Regions from separate parts of the Homo sapiens genome. Here region 2 is linked to region 1. Evidence: fine-mapped expression QTL. Tissue or cell type: gastroesophageal junction. Region 1 holds a variant in brackets; the other region holds the start of a gene. All regions are shown on one strand. Distances are between the middles of the regions.

What was found. PIP is the estimated chance that this variant, and not a neighbour inherited with it, causes the effect.
Region 2: it holds the start of ST7L, and the variant in region 1 is fine-mapped to the expression of ST7L in gastroesophageal junction (GTEx, PIP 0.95).

Annotation. Positions count from the first base shown.
Region 1 is chr1:112,517,931-112,522,930 of GRCh38, reverse strand. It overlaps WNT2B (Wnt family member 2B), which reads right to left. Exons shown (of 5, transcript NM_024494.3): 5 at 1-2,651. The coding sequence ends at 2,422. It also overlaps a transcript of ST7L not described here. Among named protein-coding and RNA genes, the nearest start is that of WNT2B, 11 kb to the right of the region's middle. The variant T/C (reference allele first, on the strand shown) is at 2,428.
Region 2 is chr1:112,616,526-112,621,525 of GRCh38, reverse strand. ST7L (suppression of tumorigenicity 7 like) reads left to right here and starts at 2,385. Exons shown (of 15, transcript NM_017744.5): 1 at 2,385-2,617; 2 at 4,631-4,713. The coding sequence starts at 2,413. CAPZA1 (capping actin protein of muscle Z-line subunit alpha 1) reads right to left here and starts at 1,694. Exons shown (of 10, transcript NM_006135.3): 1 at 1,643-1,694. The coding sequence starts at 1,681. RefSeq lists enhancers at 1,412-1,861, 1,014-2,213, 2,322-2,421.

The DNA.
Region 1 (5,000 bases):
TTTCCTCAAGATGTCAGCTGTTCTCTTCCCCTCCCATTTCCCCCTCCTTAATCCCACCATTGGCTCATCAGTTATCCAGTTGACTCCATTCTGAAGGAAGACATTCTCTTGGCCTGACTCACTCAGGCCCATTTCTCCACAGGCATCCCCTTACCGCAGACCACAAGGGCCCTGACTAGCTCATGTTTTGTGTTAATGGATGTGAAACCAGAGCAAATCCCCTCACCAAAAGAAAAACCACCCTAAACTCTCCCACACAGGTCTCAGCAGGTTACACAAATATTAGTCCTATCATCCAAATAAATCTGCCCCCGTGGCCCAGAGCTATGGCTCCCCCAACCTCCTGCTGCCTGTGCAGAGTGAAGCTGCTTCAAAAACATGAGGACCCCAAGGGATATTGGAGAGGAACTTTGGAAAGACAGGGGCCTGTATCCAGAATTCTTTATGCAGGCTCCTTAATCTACAGACTTTTGTTAATACTTTATAGTCCTAAAGAAGGACTGTTCCTAGAGAAGTCATGATGGGCTAGACCAGCCAGGGGCTTTGGTGAAGAGGATCTGCGGGCTGGAGTTTGGTGCATAATTAAAACTCAGCGTCTGACAGCTGGGCACAGTGGCTTGCGCTTGTACGCCCAGCACTTTGGAAGGCTGCAGTGGGAGGATTGCTTGAGACCAAGAATTCAAGACCAGCCTGGGCAACATAGTGAGCTCCATCTCTGAAAACTATGTTTAAATTAGCTGGGCATGATGGCATGGCCCTGTAGTCCCAGCTAATGGGGAGGCTGAGGTGGGAGGATTGCTTGAGCCTGGGAATTTGAGGCTGCAGTGAGCCATGATCATGCCAGTGCACTCCAGCCTGGGCAACAAAGCGAGACCCTATCTCTAAAAGAAATAAAAAGAAAGAAAAAAAAGAACAGGTACGTATCCTCATTTTACAGATGAGAAAATAGAAGCTCAGAAAATTTAGCTACCTTGCTCAAAATATCAAAGCAAATGGCACAGCTGTGATTTTTAACCCGGGTCTGTCATAACCGCAAATTTCTATACCACTCTGCTGCTTTAAGATATCAACAGGCAAAAGATAACCACTGTCCAACTCACATAAAAATAGGACATCAAGTTTTGGGGGACTTCATGTCCTACCTCCAGCTTACTAAGCCTGCTATCTCTGGAGATTCCACTACTGCAAACCTAGTTAGGCAATGGGTAATAGCATTACCCATTAAGCCAAATGTGGAGTGAACAATAATAATAATCACTAGGACTTGGAGAGTCACTAAATAAAGATTTGTTGAGTAAGTGGAGGAAGGCTGCCTTCTAAGCTGTGTATCACTTTGGCCCCAACCTGCAGTACTCCTTCCCACTGTAGCCACTGACTCCTGCTCCCAGCTTCAAAGGCTAGGATCCTCTCATAAAGAATTACCAAAGCCAGAGATCCCTACCTGCCTAATATATACTGATGCCTCATGTGGGCCCTTGAGATCAGACCTGCTTACCTGCTCTCCCACCATCCATGAGTTGCCTATCTTTCTTTTACTCCATGTCTCCCCAAACCTGGCAAACCTCCAGAATAGTGCATGGGAAGAGAAGAAAAGAAAAGAAAAAAAAAAAAAAAAAAAAGGCAACACAAGGCCTAGCCAGACTTACTACATTAATCTATCCTAGGAGTGTTCTAGGGTGTTTTAATGATTTGTTAAGCATGGGAACCACTGCATTCCACCTCAGTTTGAACAGGCAGCAAGTAAGCAAAAGAGGCAGTGCTGTCCAATACAGGTTGAGAATGGTAGAGAGAAAAAGAGAGAATGAATGTGTGTTTGTATTGTTATGATTCTTTTTCTTCTACAAAACACAGTTTATAAACATATGAGCATGTGAATGGAACCTTGTCCACTATGGCTAACATCTCAGGCTCTCAATAATAGAATGTGGTAGCCTAAGATTTTCTTTCGGGGTACCAGGTAGTTCTGCTCAAACGGACTTCAGAGAAGGGACATGCCATTCATCTTTGTCCCATCTAACTTTGGCCAGGTAGAAACAAAAAGAAGCTCTCTACAGGTACCCTTCCTCTTGCACACCAAGAAGTATCGGGAAGCTGGTGCAAAGGAAAGAAAAAAGGAGCCTCAACTACGTACTTTAGTGCAACTCATTTCACTCTAAAGACCCCCTATCTCTTCTACTCTCCCTTCAAATCTCCAGAGCGGGAAATCAGGGAGCTTGCTCAGTTTCTTATATCCCCTGACAACTCCTTCCCAGGGCTAAGGAACCAGCCAGGACACCATGGTCCCTATGGATTACTCTCTACATCCTTAAATAGAAGCGGTAGCAGCCCAGGGTGGAGGGTGGAGGAAGGTGTGCATGCAAGGATCTTGTGCTTTTGAGTTGAGAGGCTTGAATTGGAGGGATGAGTGAGGTATCTGTGTGTTCAGGT[T/C]TGGTCCAGCCACTCTGCCTTCTTGGGGGCTTTGCAAGTATGGACGTCCACAGTATTTCTGCATTCCTTGCACCGTACAGCACAGCACCAGTGGAATTTGCACTCACACTGGGTAACACGGGTGACTCGAGTTGTGTCGTACCCTCGGCCACAGCACATGATTTCACAACCGTCTGTTCCTTTTGATGTCTTGCTGCAGACACGGCCTGCAGTGCCTAGGGAACCTGGGTTGGGGAAGAGAGGGAGTGAGAACAAAGTTATCTCTTCAGCTGCCCTGGATACCCTTAACCACATTCTCAGAAGGAAGATAAAAAGAATCGCTTTTTTGGGCTGGGCACAGTGGCTCACTCATGCCTATCATCCCAGCATTTTGGAAGGCCAAGGCAGAAGGAATCCTTGAGTCCAGGAATTCAAGACCAGCCTGGGAAACATAGCAAGCCCTGTCTCTACAAAAACTTAAAAAATTAGCCAGGTGCCATGGGCATGAGCCTGTAGTCCTAGATACTCAGGAGGCTGAGGTGAAAGTAACACGAGGCTGGGAGGTCGAGGCTGCAGTGAGCCAAGATTGCACCACTGCACTCTAGCCTGGGTGACAGTGAAACTCTGTCTCCAAAAAAAAAAAAAAAAAAAAGAAGCATGGGCTCTGACATCATCTTGTCTGGATTCAAATCCCAGTTCTACCACTCTTAGTTGTGTGATTTAGTCAAAATGAAACATTAACTTAGTTTCTCATATGAAAATAAGCACAATAATAGATTGTTAGATATAATCTCTGTTCATCTGAAGAGGTGAACTGATTACCATGACTGGCTGGAGGCATATTCCTAAGGAATTCCTAAGTAATATCCCTTGCATTATTATTATTGCTATTATCCCTAAGCATTATCCCTTCCCCTTACAGTGGAAACTCTAGGATAGGGATCATGTTTTCCCCATGCATAGGGAATGCTTAGAACCTCATTCTGACTGATTTTAGCAAAAGAGATCCTGCCAACAGATCATAAAATCAATAGACTTTTGGATGAGTTGGGCCCATGAGAGCATCTACTCCAAGCTTTTCCATGGTTAATAAGAATCCAGAGATGGGAAACTGACTAGCCTAGGTTCAAAACGGAGAATAGATTAACTGATTTCTACAGAATTAGTCTCCAAATGTCACTGGGATACGGGAGGAAAATGCTAGAACTTCTATGTTTTTTATCTCATCAATTTAAAATATTTACGTTTTATAATATACATATTCATATAGTGGAACACAGGTATAAATAAATATACATATAATGGAGATATATGCTCAAATTGTTTTAATGATAGGAGTAAAGGATCCAGAATGTTAGGAGACCACTGGTCTGGAATGTGGACTGACTAGGTCTACTGTATATGTTAGTCTCCTAACTCCAAGGGCTGGGTCTTAAGTCCTCTTGGGCACCAAAAACCCCTTCTACACTGTGGAGCTGTGCTGTCCAGGGTAGCAGCCACTAGTCACATATGGTCTTTTACATCTAAATTAATGAAAATTAAACTAAAAAATTTAGCTCCTCAGTCACACTAGTTATATTCCAAGTACTCAGTAATCACATGTGGCTAGTTGCTACTGTATTGGACAACAGAGATAGGAAAACATTTCTATCATCACAGAAAGTTCAATTGGACTCTATTGCTTTGGAGGGAATTCCTGGCTCCATATTCTTTCTGGGATGACTTATATTCTTTGAATTCCAGGGCCCACTTTGGGTTTTAGGAGGCCTAATTTTATGCCTCTGAGAAAAACGAACACACATTTGACTTATCCTCCCTCCTAACTCCAAAGTTCCTTCCCTAAAGGTGTATTTTCAGTATGGTAGTATAGGTTTACACCTCAGATGTTATGGAATTATTTCTAGGTATCCAGAGAGTGACCCTCTGAATTAGACCAAGTGGGAGGAAAGTATACTTAGTGGCAGGAAATCACTAGGAAAATCAGAAGGGCTCCAAGTTTTTTTCTTCTAGCACCCTACAAAGTATACAGACTACTTTCTTCATTAATTGGGTAGAGCCCCACCCTTTTTCTGTGCCCAGTTTTACTCCAAGCCACTTGACTCTTCCAGGAATGACAGTGATGGGTGAAAACAAACAGTACCGAAGATAGCTGAGGTTTTTTGGCTCCACTTCACCCAAGTCCTGACGCTGAGCCTGTAGAAAAGAGCCTGGGAGCCCCACAGCAATAACCAGAGGAGAAGAGTTCTGCTGCATTGCATGTTCCTAGTTTAACCTATCTGAACCAGAAATGTGAGCCAGGATGGTAACTTTCATTCCCTTGGGGAAAAACCATATCAACTTCCAGCACCTCCAAGAATCCCACCACAAATACCTCGAACAGACTGAAAAACAACCATTTGCTGCTTTACCTGCCTTTGGTAGGGATCTCTTCTTCGTTTCTTTTTCAGCTGTTTCAGAATCTTCAATGGCAGCACACTGGATAAAGCCTTTCAAGGACATCTTTCTAGCTTTAATCTCCCTTAGAGAGAACCTTTACCCAGCAGATTGGTCTGTTCTCTGTCCCTGGGACAGATCATGTGCTTTCCCACCTACTA
Region 2 (5,000 bases), 99 kb before region 1:
AATCCCAGCACTTTAAGTGGCGAAGACGGATGGATCGTTTGAGCCCAAGAGTTTGAGACCGGCCTGGGCAACAAGACGAAACCCACTCTCTACAAGAAATACAAAAATTAGCTGGACTTGGTGGCGGGTGCCTGTAATCCCAGCTACTCGGGAAGCTGAGGCAGGAGAATAATTTGAACCAGGGAGGCGGAAGTTGCAGTGAGCCGAGCGAGACTCCGTCTCAAAAAAAAAAAAAAATTGTTTAGTTGTATTGTAACAGGATTTTTGCTTAATTTTATTTGAATAGTAACTATTTGCCTTAGAACAATTTATTATAGATCGATTTCCAGCATAGGCTTATACATAAATGTTTTTGTCCTAAATCTTAAACATGTATGAAGATCAGTTTCCAAATAAGAGAAAATCTAACGCTGTTGTCAATGGCTTGTTAAACATTTCAAAATGGCATGCCATATCTACATATATCAAGTTATTCCGTACAGAGGACTTATGGATCATAACAGTCCCCTTCCCATCCCAACTTCTTATTGAAAAAAACACCCAGGTAGATTTACAGAGCACTCAAGGGGACACATTTTCTAATAGCCACAGTGGGAGACAAATGTCATAATTCTTGTCCAATAAGTTGCCTTGTGAGGTCATTCTAAGTTCTACGTGCCCTAAAACCATGTACTTACTGAAAAGCCTGACAAACTGTTATGAAACTGTGCAACTGTCAGAAGAAAAGTTATTCCACCTTAGAATGTGCTCTTGTATTTAAGACCCTTTTCAAGAAATGAGCATACAAAATGCACACTGACAAATTCAACTGATCAAAGACTCCACAGTGGAGCATCAAAGAAGGCAGGATGCTTTGTTCAGTCTTGAACGTGTTAACATAAGGTTTATTATGTGTTACAGAAAACCTTTCTGGAGGTTAAGAAAATCCATCAGCTATTCTAGATTTGTTAACAAGAAACAAAATTTTCAAAAATTATCGTTAAAAGGGATGTGTCTATAGGGAAAGACTGGTGTTCAAATTCTGAAGCAAATGCCCTGAGGCTCACAGATTTATTATAGCGAATCAGACAGGCGACAGTACAGGAGAAAAGTAGTGCATGTGTAGGGAGATGGACAACATTTGGGACCTCTCCTTGTCGAAGAGTCGTGACAGCAAAATCACTTCCTGAGGAAGGAGGAGCAAAAGGGAAGTTAAGAGGCCATCCTGACCAGGAAGTGACTCGCCCTAAACTAACCCCAATTATATCTACAAATGGGGGGATGGGGTGAGCCCCAACTGCTAAAGGCGGTAAAATAACTGCTTTTTGATATGTCGCAACATAACCACCACCCTCTCGCAAAATTACAGAAAAAAGTCCACAGTCACGATCCAATAAAGGAAACGTCTGTTCCCTTGCAGGGAGGCCCCTGGGCTGTGCCTCAGGCCTGAGAGAAAAGGAGAGTCGAGGAACGAGGAACTGGGGCCACCGTGAGGCAGAGGAAAGCCCCCTAAGAGGGAAGCGTCCCGACTGCGGAGAGCGTATGTCAGCATGGACCAAGAAGCTTCTTTTTCCTGGGGACACTGCTAGGCTCCCAACGCAGCCGGGCCGGGCCCCAGTTCCCTGTCGGGGGAGGAGGTAAGAGAGAGAGGCGGACCCCTTACCTTCTCCTCATCCGACACACGATCATCGAAGTCGGCCATCTTGGGCTGTTCTGGCCCAGCCCGGCTACGGGCGCGAGGCAGGCCGGGAAGAAAGCCGAGTGATGGAATCACCGCGGCGGCCGTCGGAAGGACCCGCCCGGAAACGCCGACCAAGAGGGCCCCATGTCAGTTATGCGCGGGAGTGACGTCTCCTAACGCCAGCGCCCGCGCCCGCGCCCCAGGAAGTAGGGTTTGCCTTAGGTGATTTGAAGTCTAATATCTTTCCCAATGAGTTACACTCATTTCCCATCCATCTAATGGGCGCTGGCAGCGTGTTTCGATTATTCTTGGCTTCTGGCCTCCATCCGACCAAATAGCTGTTGCTACTCCTACAAGTTTTTCTGGTGCCCGTTATCTCCACGACAGCCGAATCCAAAGCTTTAAGAGCTGCTCGGCAGCTGGAACGATCGGTGGCTTTTCCAACCCCGGGGGGGGGGCGGTGTGAAAGGTGACCCTCATTTCGTTTGGAAGCGGTAACACTTCGGGGTCACATCTCAGTCCAGTTCCTCCAGAATAGGCGCTGCTGTCCGCCCCTTCCCTGCCCCACGAAAGAACAGGTAGCCCCAATCTTGAGACACGCTCCTCCACCTTCGAAATCTTCTCGGTCCCGGTTCCCCAGGACTCAGCCTTCACAGAGGCCAACTTCAGGTCCGCCACTATCCCAGGATTCCCGACTCCCGGTTTCCTGTCCTTCTCCCCTCCCAGCTCCTGGCGCCTGCGATAGCGGCAAGATGGCGGACCGTGGCGGCGTGGGTGAAGCCGCAGCTGTTGGAGCGTCTCCTGCATCTGTCCCTGGCCTAAACCCGACGCTAGGCTGGAGGGAGCGACTGCGGGCCGGGCTGGCGGGGACTGGGGCCTCGTTGTGGTTCGTGGCGGGGCTGGGGCTGCTTTACGCCCTGAGGATCCCTTTGAGGCTGTGTGAGAATTTGGCAGCGGGTGAGAGGACCAGACCTCCTGGGGCAGGGCGGGGGGCCAGGAGAGATGTCGGGGGCAAGAGCCAAAGGGCAAGAGATTCTCGGTAGTCCTAGAGGGCCTCTGAGGAGTCGATGATGAGCGATCAAGTGAGTTCTTTTTCTTTTGGGCTGCAACCTTGCAGTTGATTGACAAGCCTGCTGCCGTTACCGGCTCCTCCGTAGAACTCTTAAGGTCCGCCCTCTCTCTTATGTCCTCGTTTTTCCATGGAAAAGCCACCTGACAAGCTATAAGCTTCAGGTATTAGGACAGAAGAGTGTCTCAGATTAGGATACGTAATTTATATTGGCTCCCCCACCTCTGGTAGGATCCCTTAAAAGTCACTACTTTGAGTCTCCCGCTGCCCAGCTGAAAGAACTCATATCCAGGCAACAAAGATGAGCACATCTGTAATTTAAAGATTTCAGAGAAAGAAAATGGCATGATTTTAATTGAGGATTCTCTTGTTTTAAAATAGTTCTGTTAAGAAATCGTTTTCGTGATAGTTTTGTCTGTTCTTTTAGGCTTATCTTGAGTAATAAAATAGTACAGGAAGTGAGAGCGCCACAAACAACAGTGGGTTTGCTAGTTCTTTCGACGTCTGTAGAACACTTGCTACGTATTCTGTGCTGACAATACGAACACATGTAAGAAGTGATGATCCTGATGGATTCTCATATACTGTACTATTCTTTAGCTGTAGACAGGATGAAGTGTTTAGGGCCCAGGTCCCCTTACCATGTGATTATATTTCACTCAAGATCTGAGCAGCAACCTCAGAACAAGATATAAGTATTTCCATTACATGATTCAGTATGGTGGTTGATTTTTCTGAAGCAAAAGGCAGCAAATGTCCCCTTTCCTGTTCAGAGATGACATGAAAGACTGTGAGTTAATGTTCGGAAATATTTTGGTTTTTTTGGAGGATAGGTATCAAGTTCAAATATAACTAGCACTCTAAAATAAGCTAAACTGAAGAGCTAATTTGGCATCTCTGTAACAGGTGAATGAAGTGCTTAACGGTGGTTTCTATGCACAGTGTTACTGATTGACTTGTCATTTATTTTTCTACGTTAACCATATGCAACATTTAGATGAGAATAGTTGATTACTATAGATTTTTCTTTTTTACGTTTCGTGTGTGTGTGTGTGTGTGTGTGTGTGTGTGTGTGTGTGAGAGAGAGAAAGACAGACAGAGTCTCCCTTTGTCACCCAGGCTGAAGTGTAGTGGCAAGATCACTGCAGCCTTGAACTCTTCTGCTTAAGCGATCCTCTGGCCTCAGCCTCCCAAGTAGCTGGGACTGCAGGCGTGCACCACCACGACTGGCTGAGTTTTAAATTTTGCGTAGAGACTGGGTCTATTTTATTTGCCCAGGCTGGTCTTGAACTTCTGGCTACCAGTGATCCTCCTGCCTTGGCCTCCCAAAACTCTGAGATTATGGGAGTGAGCCATCCTACCTGGCCAGATTTTTATTTTCTTTCTAAAACCCACAGTACTTATGAGATAATTATTTGAAGTGAAAAATCTGCTCCAGGATTTCAGTAACTCAGGGAGATTTCTGTTTGTTGCTTTTCTCTTTGAGCCATTTTGCCTCTCTAGCTGATATACCAAATACATATGCTGTTTCCTTCCCTCTAATTTGAGACAGTGGTTTTGTATCCTACCAAAATAAATATGGAGTAGTTTTGAACCTCCTTTGTAAAAGCATATTTATCTTTTTATTCTTACAGACTTGCAAAAGTTCTATCTAAATTATGACTTATAAGTGCTTTAGTTTTATTCTCCAAAGCAAGCTGAATTACCTCATTTTGATTTGTTGCAAATAGTGATAAGCCATTATGTATAATATATATACAAATTAAAACTTTTTCAAGTGAATTTCACACTAGATATTAATACTACTTAAGTCCCACCACTCATAAAGATACTTGCATATTTGTAACCTAAGTACTTTAAATTTGCATTTTTTAAAACTTTGATTCTTGTTCTTTTGACAGTGACTGTATTTTTAAATTCATTGACACCCAAATTCTATGTGGCACTTACAGGGACCTCTTCATTGATATCAGGACTAATATTTGTAAGTAGTTTCCATTTCCTTCCTTCATGTTTTGGTGTTTATCTAAAGATATTTTTTTTTTTTCTTTTTTGAGACAGAGTCTTGCTCTGTCGCCCAGGCTGGAGTGCAGTGGCATGATCTCGGCTCACTGCAACTTCCGCCTTCCAGGTTCCAGCAATTCTTCTGTCTCAGCCTCCCGAGTAGCTGGGATTACAGGTGCCGGCCACCATGCCCGGATAATTTTTGTATTTTTAGTAGAGATGGCATTTCACCATATTGGTCAGGCTGGTCTCCAACTCCTGACCTCA